Linked DNA regions of Homo sapiens: all the other regions are reported to be linked to region 1. Evidence: microRNA targets listed by miRTarBase, many of them from high-throughput screens and not tested one by one. Region 1 holds a microRNA gene; each other region holds the end of a gene's coding sequence.
Evidence for each region. The annotated mature microRNA hsa-miR-516b-5p reads AUCUGGAGGUAAGAAGCACUUU and lies in region 1 at 1,986-2,007, shown strand. An mRNA with a match to its seed (bases 2 to 7 or 8) in the 3' UTR can be bound and repressed. Matches are read on the target gene's strand: a 7mer-m8 pairs with bases 2 to 8, a 7mer-A1 pairs with bases 2 to 7 and ends in A, and an 8mer does both.

Region 2: miRTarBase lists CCDC158 as a target of hsa-miR-516b-5p. The part of its 3' UTR that is shown has no 7-base or 8-base seed match.
Region 3: the mRNA of YY1 is a reported target of hsa-miR-516b-5p. Seed matches in the 3' UTR shown: 7mer-A1 at 627-633, 7mer-A1 at 1,506-1,512 and 7mer-A1 at 2,467-2,473.
Region 4: miRTarBase lists METTL8 as a target of hsa-miR-516b-5p. The part of its 3' UTR that is shown has no 7-base or 8-base seed match.

The regions. Positions count from the first base shown.
Region 1 is chr19:53,734,875-53,738,081 of GRCh38, forward strand. It overlaps MIR516B1 (microRNA 516b-1), which reads left to right and starts at 1,971; the gene lies at 1,971-2,060. It overlaps MIR518D (microRNA 518d), which reads left to right and starts at 3; the gene lies at 3-89.
Region 2 is chr4:76,310,517-76,313,516 of GRCh38, forward strand. It overlaps CCDC158 (coiled-coil domain containing 158), which reads right to left. Exons shown (of 25, transcript NM_001394954.1): 25 at 2,523-2,730. The coding sequence ends at 2,654. FAM47E-STBD1 (FAM47E-STBD1 readthrough) reads left to right here. Exons shown (of 7, transcript NM_001242939.2): 7 at 1-614. STBD1 (starch binding domain 1) reads left to right here. Exons shown (of 2, transcript NM_003943.5): 2 at 1-614. Among named protein-coding and RNA genes, the nearest start is that of STBD1, 5.3 kb to the left of the region's middle.
Region 3 is chr14:100,277,015-100,280,014 of GRCh38, forward strand. YY1 (YY1 transcription factor) reads left to right here. Exons shown (of 5, transcript NM_003403.5): 5 at 404-3,000. The coding sequence ends at 586. It overlaps MIR6764 (microRNA 6764), which reads left to right and starts at 343; the gene lies at 343-403. It also overlaps a transcript of SLC25A29 not described here. RefSeq lists an enhancer at 1,319-2,299.
Region 4 is chr2:171,321,579-171,324,785 of GRCh38, forward strand. It overlaps METTL8 (methyltransferase 8, tRNA N3-cytidine), which reads right to left. Exons shown (of 10, transcript NM_001321154.2): 10 at 1-2,784. The coding sequence ends at 2,594. Among named protein-coding and RNA genes, the nearest start is that of METTL8, 110 kb to the right of the region's middle. RefSeq lists a silencer at 2,401-2,695 and an enhancer at 2,777-2,876.

The DNA.
Region 1 (3,207 bases):
GATCCCATGCTGTGACCCTCTAGAGGGAAGCACTTTCTGTTGTCTGAAAGAAACCAAAGCGCTTCCCTTTGGAGCGTTACGGTTTGAGAAACTCAATGTTGAAGTTGATGCTGACTTCAGTAATACATTTGTAGAGGATGCTTATCATCAGACTTGGATGATATCGGGGTTCTGTGCTTTTTTTTTTTTTTTTCTCCTAAGACAAAATCTGTATTTTCCAGGCTGGAGTCCATAAGCACTTCCAACCTAGGTCTCTTGCGCTCAGATAGTCCTCTTTTTTGGGACAGAGTCTTGCTCTGTGACCCAGGCTGGAGTGCAGTGGCGTGATCTCGGCTCACTGCAACCTCTGTCTCCTGGGCTCAAGCAATTCTCCTTCCTGAGCTTCCTGAGGAGCTGGGATTACAGGCGCCTGACATCATCCTTGGCTAACATTTGTATTTTTCTTTTTTATTCATGTATTTATTTACTTTTCAGATGGAGTCTCGCTGTCGACCAGGCTAGAGGGCAGTGGCACGATCCCGGCTGACTACAACCTGTACCTCTCAGGTTCAAGCAATTCTCCTGCCTCAGCCTCTGGAGTAGCTGGAATTACAGGAACACACCACCAGGCCCGGCTACTTTTTGTATTATTATTATTATTATTATTTTTTTTTTTTTTCACTAAAGAGGGGGTTTCACCATGTTGTCCAGAGAATACAAGCATGAGCCACTGCGCAGCCATCAACACCTTTTACTGCATGGAAATTATTCTGGCACTGGTATAGAACCTCACATGGGGTCAGGTGGAGTTGAGGGGACCTCAGTGTCCCTGCAGATGGGATGAGCAAGAGCACGGAGGTGGAGTGCATGGGGCTTCAGTGTTTATTGGGGAAATGAAGCTGAAATCTTGGGTGCATGACCAGGAAATAAATGCATGAGACAGGGGTCTCACTGTGCCGCCCTGGCTAAAGTGGTCTTAGATCCTCCTGCCTCTGCCCCTCCCCAGTCCTAGGTAGATGGGACTACATGTGAATATTAACCCATGCACAGACAAGAAGAAAGTAAGGACTGTTATTTTGTTCGTACCCAGCCCCCAGTTAAATTTATCATATATATAATATATCATATATATAACATAATCATATACACACAAAATGCTGATTTGAATACAGAGAATACTCTGATATCACTTTGGGTATTTTTTGGTTTGTTTCTGTGTGTGTGTGTTTTATTTGTTTGGTTGGTTATTTTTGAGACAAGGTCTGGCTCTATCACCCAGGCTGGAGTGTAGTGGTGCGTTCTCAGCTCACTGCAACCTCCGCCTTCCACCTAAGCCTGCTGCATTAGTGTCTACAGGCATGCACCACCACACCCGGCTCACTTTTGTATTTTTTGTACACATGGGGTTACACCATGTTGCCGGGGCTGGTCTCGAACTCCTGACCTCAGGTGATTCTCCCGTCTTGGCCTCCTAAAGTGCTAGAATTAGAGGTGTGAGCCACCGTGCCCCACCTGTACTTGTGTATTTATGTTAAAATTGTGTTAAGGAGTTTTTATGACCAAGCCTGTGATCTATTCTGGAGAATATTTGTGCGTATGACAATGTATATTCTTCAACATCGTAGATTCCATTTTGGATGCTCCCACTGGGACTGTGTGCCTATACTGGAACTCAAGTGAACACTTGGCTCAAAATCCATTGCTGTTCTCTAGAAATCCAGCCCAATTCTCTTGGTTAAATATAAGGTATGTGTAGTAGGCATTGCTTTTTCTTTCTAGAGACAAAACTCAGGAGGATTGCCCCTTGATGAACAAGGTAACCTGCTGATTCTTTGAAACAAGAAACTGGAGATGGTTCCTTTAGGGGTTTATGTTCTGGATTCCAGGAAACATGCAAACAGGGCCCACAAATGCATCTTTATGTTTGTGTCCATTTTAACCTGGTCGAAGAACATTCCAACAAAAAATCCACCATGCACCGAGCAAGAATATCTCAGGCTGTGACCATCTGGAGGTAAGAAGCACTTTCTGTTTTGTGAAAGAAAAGAAAGTGCTTCCTTTCAGAGGGTTACTCTTTGAGAAAAGCAACGTTGAAGTTGATGCTGATCTTGGTAATACATTTGGAGAGCATGCTTATCATCAGACGTGGATGACGGTTGGGTTTTGTTTTTGTTTTATTTTTTATCTTAGGCAGGGTCTCTGTTGCCCAGGCTGGAGTGTGTTGGCACTTCCAACCTAGATCTCTTGGTCTTAAATGGTCCTCTTTTTGGGGGGCGGAGTCTCACTCTGACCCAGGCTGGAGTGCAATGGCAGGAACTCCCCTCACTGCAACCTCCACCTCCCGGGTTCAAGCGATTCTCCTGCCTCAGTTTTCCGAGTCGCTAGGATTACAGGCTCACTCCTCCACACCTGGCTAATATTTGTAGTTTTCTTTATTATTCATTTATTTATGTGTTTTTGAGAAGGAGTCTCGCTGTCGCCCAGGCTGGAGTGCAGCTGCACAATCTCAGCTCACTGCAACTTCTGCCACTGGAGTAACTGGGATTTCAGGTGCGTGCCACCACACTTGGCCAATTTTTTATGTGTGTATTTTTAGACCCGGGGTTTTCCCATGTTGGCCAGGCTGGTCTGGAACTCCTGACCTCAGGTGACCCATGCACCTCGGCCTCCCAGAGTGCTGGGATTACAGGCATCAGCCACCGCACCCGGCCCTGTCTCTGACTTTTGCGAACTGAGGAAGTAACCTTTTGAAATTTACTCTGAAGTGTGAATGATTTTAGCATATTTTCAACCACCAACATTCTAGTTCAGGAGATTTTCATCACCCCAAAGAGGCTTATTCCCATTTGCAGTCAGTTCCCACCCCACTCTTCCACCCAGACCGTGACAAACACTTTGCATCTCTCTAGCTCTGGATCTGCCTCTTGTGGGCATGTCACATAGATCAGTTTTGAATAGGTGGCCTGTTGTGACCACTGTAATTGAGGATAATGGGTTGGTCCTGGTTGTCTGCAGTGTGAATCTTACCACTGAAGGGTGGTCCCTGGATGGAAGCAGGAGGCTGGGAGAACTGGGCGGAACATCCTTTGGGAATGGAGTCGGGCGGGCAGACCCTGATGCCTGGGAAGCTCACAAGGGTGGAAGACCACATCTTCCTCCCTGAGAACTGCAAGGTGACCCTCCTGGGGTACTGGAAGGAGTGAAGGCCTCTGGACTGGGAACACCAGG
Region 2 (3,000 bases), not on the chromosome of region 1:
CATGATACGAAACTGTGATTAGAAAATATCTGGTCTGGATGTGATTAGTAAGGATACAAGATAATGTTCTAAGACTGCCTAATGCTTTTTGTTTGATTTTCATCTGCCAGGCGTTGTTATGTGCTATGAGGGTAGCAAGTACGTCTTTGTCTTAATGATCTAAGGCTGGTGTAGAAACAAAGGGCCTAATGAGAACCAATCATCATGGAAGTCAGTTGCGGGGGCAGCCCATAAGGAAAGGGAAAGTGAGTGGGGTTGGGCATAGGCTGAGTGAGGTGGCCTGAATGACACCTCTTAGAGGACTGTGAAGTACAGGCACAGCCCGACTGCAGGGAGGGATGCACCCATCATTTACCCATGGGAGCATCTGTAGGACCATCTCTCTCCCACTTCTTCTCCCCTCCCCCACCGCATCTGGCCAGATGGACTGTCCTACAGCAATCGTTTCCATCTGTCACCCTCTTCCCTCTCCTTTCATACCAGTCACTATCTTGGGTAACAAATTTATACAGGACAGTGGTACAGAAATACATCTTTGCTCTGAGAATACAGCAAATATTAACTTAAATTATTATAACTGAACAAATAATAAAACCTGAATTTTAATATCTTCATTTGATGTCTGAATTATTTGTCTAAATTTTAGTATCACAATAGCCTAGATGTAAAATAAAATACAAATATTTTCCTCCACTAATAAGAGACATATACAGAAAAGCAAACATCAAAAGGTACAGAAGACATGAAGATTCTGTTTTTCTCCTCCCTTTGGAGAAAAAGTTGACAATATTTATTCTCAAAGTTCACCTTTGACTGGAGGGAAATTCAGCACGCCTGTACTTGAAAATGAATTCTTACATGTTAAAATAACTTTTAATAAGTTTAACATCTATCAGTGAAATAATGTTTAATCCTTTTAAACAGATGGTCTTTGCTGAAAAGAATAAACCCAACTGAAAATAGCATTAGAAAGTACTTAAAAGAACTATGTTTGACAGTTTTTGGCTCATAGCACTTTTATGTTAAATTCATGTATACTGTTTACAGACTTCATAATGAATTTTATATTGTACCAGTAAGCTCTGCAGAAGGCATTCACCATTACTGCATGGAATGCCCAAACATGCCCATGAGGAAAATTAAAGGTAAAACAATTTAAGTAAAAGTCTCTCTAGAATTCTATTACTGGCTATTTTATCACTACCTGGTAAAATTAAAATTAATCTTTCAGTAAAGCCAACTGATCTAAGAGAGAAATATTACACTTTATATTTTAAAAATTCACTTAAAATTGGATGTGCTTACAGTTCTAACATTGTCCTTGAGAGCAGAAGCGTGAGGATCTTCTGGTGAGAGCATGCATGCCCTACTCCATTTGTTGTCTGCATAGGTTAGGGCTGCTGCTAGCTGCTGTAATAGACACCATCCATTTAAGAAGGCTGCAGCACCAGAGGCCGATTTCTTGCTCATGTAACTGTCAGCAGTGAGTCTTCCTGGCAGGAGGGCAGCTCCCCTCCTTGCAGAGATTCAGTTACCCAGACTCCCTTCTGCCCTGTGGCTCTGCCATCCCCTATAATAACCCTCATGTCCTCTGCATCCAGCCCATGGAGGGGAAAATAAAGTTAGGAAGAACACCCATGCATGTTAACACTTTGACCTGAAAGTGCCACATATTGCTCTGTCCACATTCTGTTAATGAGAACCCTCAGGCCACACCCATATACAAGGGGAGGCAGGATTGGGAAATAGAGACTCTTGCTGGGCAGCTGTTTCTCAGTGACAATTCCAGGTTATACAACAGGAACATAAGATTTATTTTGGACAGCTAGCCATCTGCCACGTTGTCCCTGATGTTTTGACACAACTGATACATTTTTGTATTTGTTCTTCTCTCATTTTATTTAGTTCACATATAAACCTCCCTAATTTATTAAAATTTAATTAAAGCAGACTGAATAGATATAATCTAGAAGTTACCAACTTGCTAAAGAGTAACAAAATCATTTTCTTTACTATTATTAATATGCAAAAAAGGGAAACTTTTGTAAAAGTTTTGACTGGGGGCCCTGATGTTAGGTTATCTGATTACCCTCACTGATATTGACAGAACAGTGAGTTCACAGTCACAAAATGAGCCCCTGTTAGTATGCTGAAATTTGTCCTCTGTCCTTGGTATTACACCACGTCTTTCACTTTCATGTGAAAGTAGTTCTTCCCCCAGATTTTTTTTGAAGCTAAATTAGATTGAATAAAACATTTAAATTAAATTAAAATTTAAGTAGAATAAAATAAATAAAATAGATTCTATTGTCTTGGGACCAGTAACAATAAAAAACCACAATTATTCCAATATATTAGAATAAGCACAAATTATATCTTATAATTAATCACCTTATAAGGTAATTATAATACCTTATTATGTATGAATACTTTATAGGTATTAATTGTTATAATGTATGAATACTAGCTAGTAGATGTTTGAAGTTTTACTGTGAGGGATTCAAGAATAGTTTATTTCAAAATAGAGTTTACAAGACAGGGTATCTTTTATTAAATTTTCACATAAAAAGAAAAAGTACACAGGGCACTAATTACGAGTAACACCACAATTAATTGGGCCTCATTCCTCTGTAAAGAATAGGCAAGCAACGAGTCATTTTAGTAACATTTTTTCCTGGTCTTTTACTTTCTGTATCCTCTTTTCTTGATTTCTGATCATTGAAGACATTGCTGAAAATGTTGATAAAACAGTTAGAATAACAAAATCTACTTAGGCTTTAATTCTACTATGTGCTACTTAAAAGATCAGCTTGATAGTATAGAATAGACATGTTCTGAGCTCAAGACATTCTTAAAAATTGTGATGTAGCATATTTTTGAAAAGGTTGGTGTTATGGAAGAGAGCTAAGGGTAAATCTTTAGTGTTTCAGGTGTTTTATTTACTTATTTATTTTGTAGAGACAGGGTCTCTCTATGTTGCCCAGGGTGGTCTAAGACTCC
Region 3 (3,000 bases), not on the chromosome of region 1:
TGTAAGTATAGGTAATACTTTAGCCCATAAATAAGTGAAAGAACTAGCAGTGCAGCTAGTAAATCTAACGTGGTTCTTTTTTGACAACTGACACCAGAACCCTTAATCATTTGTATTTTACTGTTGGAAATGTTTACAGCAGCACTAGGACTCTAGCCTGCATTTAGGAAGACTTGCCATTTTGCCAAGTGTTTTAAACAGTTCGTGAGGGCTCTCCTTGGGTTTTCGGGGTTGTCCAACCTGCCTGCTGATTCTAGACTATATCCACAAAGTTCACCCAGGGCAGGAATGAAAAGTGTTTGGTAAAATAAATAGGCTGTTCTCTAGCAAAGCAGTGAGCTCCTGACTCCCAGGGTCTGGTCAGAGTTGCTGAGTGGGTTGATCTCTGGTCTTTCCTTGACAGTGCACGTTCGAAGGCTGTGGGAAACGCTTTTCACTGGACTTCAATTTGCGCACACATGTGCGAATCCATACCGGAGACAGGCCCTATGTGTGCCCCTTCGATGGTTGTAATAAGAAGTTTGCTCAGTCAACTAACCTGAAATCTCACATCTTAACACATGCTAAGGCCAAAAACAACCAGTGAAAAGAAGAGAGAAGACCCTTCTCGACCACGGGAAGCATCTTCCAGAAGTGTGATTGGGAATAAATATGCCTCTCCTTTGTATATTATTTCTAGGAAGAATTTTAAAAATGAATCCTACACACCTAAGGGACATGTTTTGATAAAGTAGTAAAAATTAAAAAAAAAAAACTTTACTAAGATGACATTGCTAAGATGCTCTATCTTGCTCTGTAATCTCGTTTCAAAAACACAGTGTTTTTGTAAAGTGTGGTCCCAACAGGAGGACAATTCATGAACTTCGCATCAAAAGACAATTCTTTATACAACAGTGCTAAAAATGGGACTTCTTTTCACATTCTTATAAATATGAAGCTCACCTGTTGCTTACAATTTTTTTAATTTTGTATTTTCCAAGTGTGCATATTGTACACTTTTTTGGGGATATGCTTAGTAATGCTACGTGTGATTTTTCTGGAGGTTGATAACTTTGCTTGCAGTAGATTTTCTTTAAAAGAATGGGCAGTTACATGCATACTTCAAAAGTATTTTCCTGTAAAAAAAAAAAAGTTATATAGGTTTTGTTTGCTATCTTAATTTTGGTTGTATTCTTTGATGTTAACACATTTTGTATAATTGTATCGTATAGCTGTATTGAATCATGTAGTATCAAATATTAGATGTGATTTAATAGTGTTAATCAATTTAAACCCATTTTAGTCACTTTTTTTTTCCAAAAAAATACTGCCAGATGCTGATGTTCAGTGTAATTTCTTTGCCTGTTCAGTTACAGAAAGTGGTGCTCAGTTGTAGAATGTATTGTACCTTTTAACACCTGATGTGTACATCCCATGTAACAGAAAGGGCAACAATAAAATAGCAATCCTAAAGCAAGAATATGGCAGAACAAGATCTGTAAGCACAGTCTTATTTTCTTTTGTTGTCCAGAATACTTATAATTCTTGAGCCTCCCAGAAATTGGAAGCTAAATAAAGCAACTCAAGTTTCCTTTATTTTGCACTCAATTACAGTGATTATTGATGAAAGCGATGCATGGATATTTTAATACTTCCTACATGTCCTGACTTCTGAAAGAGAGTAGGTAACAGGCATCCCGAGTTCAGGAACTACCTCAGAACACCCCAGGCCAGGTTGGTCATAGGCTGTGATTTTAGCCCCCGGCAAGTGTGAGTGAAGCATCTGTACCACCGCGCAGGCTGAGCGCCTGCGCAGGGTAAGGTGCCACCTGGCAGTGGGGCACACAGAGGGAAGACCAGGCCTGTCCATCAGCCGGCTGCCTTCAGAGGCAGCTCCAGCAGGACCTTGGCTTGTCTGACAGGAAATGCTTGTGGTCGTTGGTTATTTGGTTTGAGAGCCCTTGTTCCTCCATCTAGTGGAGTCCTTATTAAATGCTAGCAATGTGGCAATTGAGTGCCAGTAGCTTAATTTCATGTTTCTAAATGGACACTGGGTGCAAATCGGCAAGGTGATTAGATTATTAGAAAATTCTGCTCAATGAGTACCTCTCACATTGTAACCTCTTAAATGTACGATTATAATGTTGGATCTTAGGTCAAATAACAGACTTGAGAATACTTTATAAACTGCCATGATACAGCAAAATCTCATTTATTCAAAGTGCAAACATACTGTGTGTCTTTCTGTTTTGTGTATGCTTGACTGCAAGATAAATGACAAACTAGCTAATATCCGAGATTTATTTACAAATGGCCAGGGACCCCATCAGGTGAAACACATAGCCCATTGTCTTAGAGCTTCTCCATCGGTCCTGTACAGGAGGATTGGTGACCTACTAACAGTGACCCTGTGGCTCTGTGGAATTTTGAAGTGCCTTTTGTGAATCATGAATGAAACATTTAACTTGAGACCCTTTAAAAAATTCATCCAGAATCTGTTACCCCTTGGGTAGTTTGATGGAACTGAGTTAAGCAGAAGACCCCAGCTGTTTTCTGGGTAAGCCAGGCTTTGCTGTATCTGGCAGTCAGGAGAGAGGTCAGCCCATGGTGGAGGTCTTCAGTGCCGAGGGCTCGGATGAGAACGTGTAGTTCTTTGACTTGGACCTGGGCAGCGTCTTCTATGGATGCCTGCCTTGTGAGCACCCACACCTTCCCTCCCCACTGTCGGGTTGAGTAGCCCCAGCGTGGCTGTGTTAGGAGTCCTTTGCCCAACATTGTGCTGCACTGGAGCCTGGCCCTGGCACTGTCCTCAGGACCCTGCCCAAGGGCCCACCGCAGAGCACACCTATGCTATGGGGAGCCCTGCTGGCAGCCCCGAGAGCCATGCCATGGCCTGCAGGAGCCAGGCTCCTGTGTGGATGAAGTCCCTCTTCCTCTGTGCCTTGATCCCTTGGGGGTGCCTTTGGTCATCTCTTCTGTCCTTTCCTGTCTCTGAAATAGTCATCACTCCCCTTGACTCTC
Region 4 (3,207 bases), not on the chromosome of region 1:
GAAAAAACAGTTGGAACTTAATTATTCCAATGATGGTTCTTTCAAGAGAGTATTTATTTATTCTAGGTTCTGTGGTTCATAATCAAAGTCTGCTAGCTGGTAAGTTCCCTATTTGAGTGTTTGTATATTGTCTTAGATCATGATTTACAGGTTTGGGATATGCACATTTTGTTTTGCCAGCTGTACTCTATTTATGCTCCCTGAAGAGCATAAACAAGGCTGGGTCTTTATTGTTCATATTATTCCACTGAATTTAGCACTCAATATGTAAGTAGTCAATAAATATTATGTAATGAGTATGAGACTAATCTTAAAAACTTCATTTCTACAAAATGTGATTTGCAAGCCAACTTATGTCCTTTTTGAAGCAAGGGAGTAAATAAATTTTTTTTTTTTTTTTTGATACGCAGTCTAACAACTGTCACCCAGGCTGGAGGGCAGTGGTGTCATCTCGGCTCACTGCAACCTCTGCCTCCCGGGTTCAAGTGATTCTCCTGCCTCAGCCTCCCGAGTAGCTGGGATTACAGGTGCCCACCACCACGCCTGGCTAATTTTTTTTGTATTTTTAGTAGAGACAGGGTTTCACAGTGTTGGTCAGGCTGGTCTTGAACTCCTGACCTCATGATCCGCCTCCTCGGCCTCCCAAAGTGCTGGGATTACGGGCTTGAGCGACTGCGCCCGGCCCTCGAGGGGATAAATACATTTTTAACTGCCACAATTTAAGAATTCTCTTGGGTATGACAGTTGTCTTAAACAGAGCTTACCACTGATACCAGAAAGGGTCTGGATCCAGACGCCAAGAGAGGATTCTTGGATCTTGTGCAAGAAAGAATTGAGTCCATACAGCAAAGTGAAAACAAGTTTAAGTAAAGAATAGGCTGGGCGCGGTGGCTCACACCTGTAATCCCAGCACTTTGGGAGGCCGAGGCGGGCGGATCACAAGGTCAGGAGATTGAGACCATCCTGGCTAACATGGTGAAACCCCGTCTCTACTAAAAATACAAAAAAAAAAAAAATTAGCTGGGCATGGTGGTGGGTGCTTGTAGTCCCAGCTACTCAGGAGGCTGAAGCAAGAGAATGGCGTGAACCCGGGAGGTGGAGCTGGCAGTGAGCTGAGATCACGCCACTGCACTCCAGCCTGGGTGCCAGAGCAAGACTCCATCTCAAAAAAAAAAAAAAAAAAAAAGTAAAACATAAAGAATGGCTACTCCATAGGCAGAGCAGCCCCAAGGGCTACTGGTTGCCCATTTTTAAGGTTATTTCTTGATTATATGCTACACAAGGGGTGGATTATTCAGGCCTCCCCTTTGTAGACCATATGGGTAACTTCCTGATGTTGCCATGGCATTTGTAAACTATCATGGCACTGGTGGGAGTGTAGCAGTGAGGACAGCCAGAGGACACTCTCATTGCCATCTTGGTTTTGGTGGCATTTGGCCGGCTTCTTCACTGCAACCTGTTTTATCAGCAAGGTCTGTATGACCTGTATCTTGTACTGACTTCCTATCTCATCCTGTGACTAAGAATGTCTTAACCTCCTGGGATTGCAGCCTAGTAGGTCTCAGCTTCATTTTACACAGTCCCTATTCAAGATGAAGTTGCTCTGGTTCAAAAGCCCTTGATACAAGAGCTTGTCAGCTTACATACCTTTTTTTTTTTTTTTTTTTTTTTTGGAGACAAGGTCTCACCATGTCACCCAGTTTGGAGCGCAGTGGTACAATCTCAGCTCACTGCAACCTCCGCCTCCGAGGCTCAAGCGATCCTCCCACCTCAGTCTCCTGAGTAGCTGGGACCACAGGTGTGTGCCACCATGCCTGGCTAATTTTTGTATTCTTGGGAGAGACAGGGTTTTGCCATGTTGTCCAGGCTGGTCTTGAACTCCTGAGCTCAACCGATCTGCCTGCCTCAGCCCCCCAAAGTGCTGGGATTACAGGTGCGAGCCATTGCACCTGGCCTAACAACTTGTATATCTAAGAATAGCCTGAAAATAATGTCAGCATGGGCTGTACTTCCCCAATTTTAGGAAAGGAAAGAGGAACTAAAATTCTATTTCAGATATGAGCCTCTGAATTTCAAAAAAAAATTGGGAGAAAATAGACAACAACAAGACAAAAAATAATACACTTTGACCTTGGGCTTGTTGTAGCTTTCCCTGGAAATAAGGTGTGCTTTCTCTCTGCAATCAGATGACAATGGGAAGAGTCTGACTGTGTTTGGGAACTGGTTTACTAAGCCTAAACAAATAAACAATTTTTTTTACTTGCAAAAAATGTCAAGTTACATTTTCTCAAAATTACTTGACATAATACTAACTTAATTGAATGCTTATAAAAATCAAGGAACAAGCAAAATGGTTAGATGTAATAAATTCAAACAAGCTTGAGCATATCAAGTTTTCAAAGCACAGAAAAAGGCATACTGTGCTGAACCACTTACATGTGCTTAAAATGCACAAAGGAGCTCACCTATGACAAAACGGCAGGAAATACAAATTCTCTTCTTTTTTTCTCATTGTCTTTTGAGAAACAATAGACTTACAGTAGTCCTTGAATAGCACAGTCCTCTGGCTTTGTACCTTAACATGTTACAAAGTTCAGTCTTGTGAAAGGAGTGTAGATACCATATTGGAGCTATTCTGAGTCTGGTGCAATGGTTTCTGGAATTTGCCTTGAATCCACACTCGGTGCATTTTCACTTGTTTTTTCCTATTAACTTGTAAGCGGCGATCAACCAGATTTTGCTTTTCATCTAAACTGGCTTTGCAGAACATACTGTGGACTTCCCCTGTGAGACAAAAATGGCAATAAAAGATATGACATGTGACTAGAGATGGGGGAGGTCAGGAGTAGAACACTGATGGAATAACTGACCATCTAAATTTCATTTATACAAGAAACACTCTCTAGAACAATTTGGTGAAGGAAACCTGTGAAACCAAGCGAGTTTCTTCTATTTCACAAAAATACACCATGCATATAAAAATACACCTGTTTACAGACTAACACGGCAGACATCAACAGATATATAAAACTATTGGTTGCAGCTTTCAATATTTTGAAAGGTGCTCCCTTTCTGAGTTTTTGTTGGTTTACAGAAACCCAAAACGGCAGATTATAAAAGTACTCACATAAATTTGGGGAAATCCTTGAATGCAGCATTCACTTGGTACTGTTAGAAATGCATTTTTAAAAATGTGAAATTGGTTGG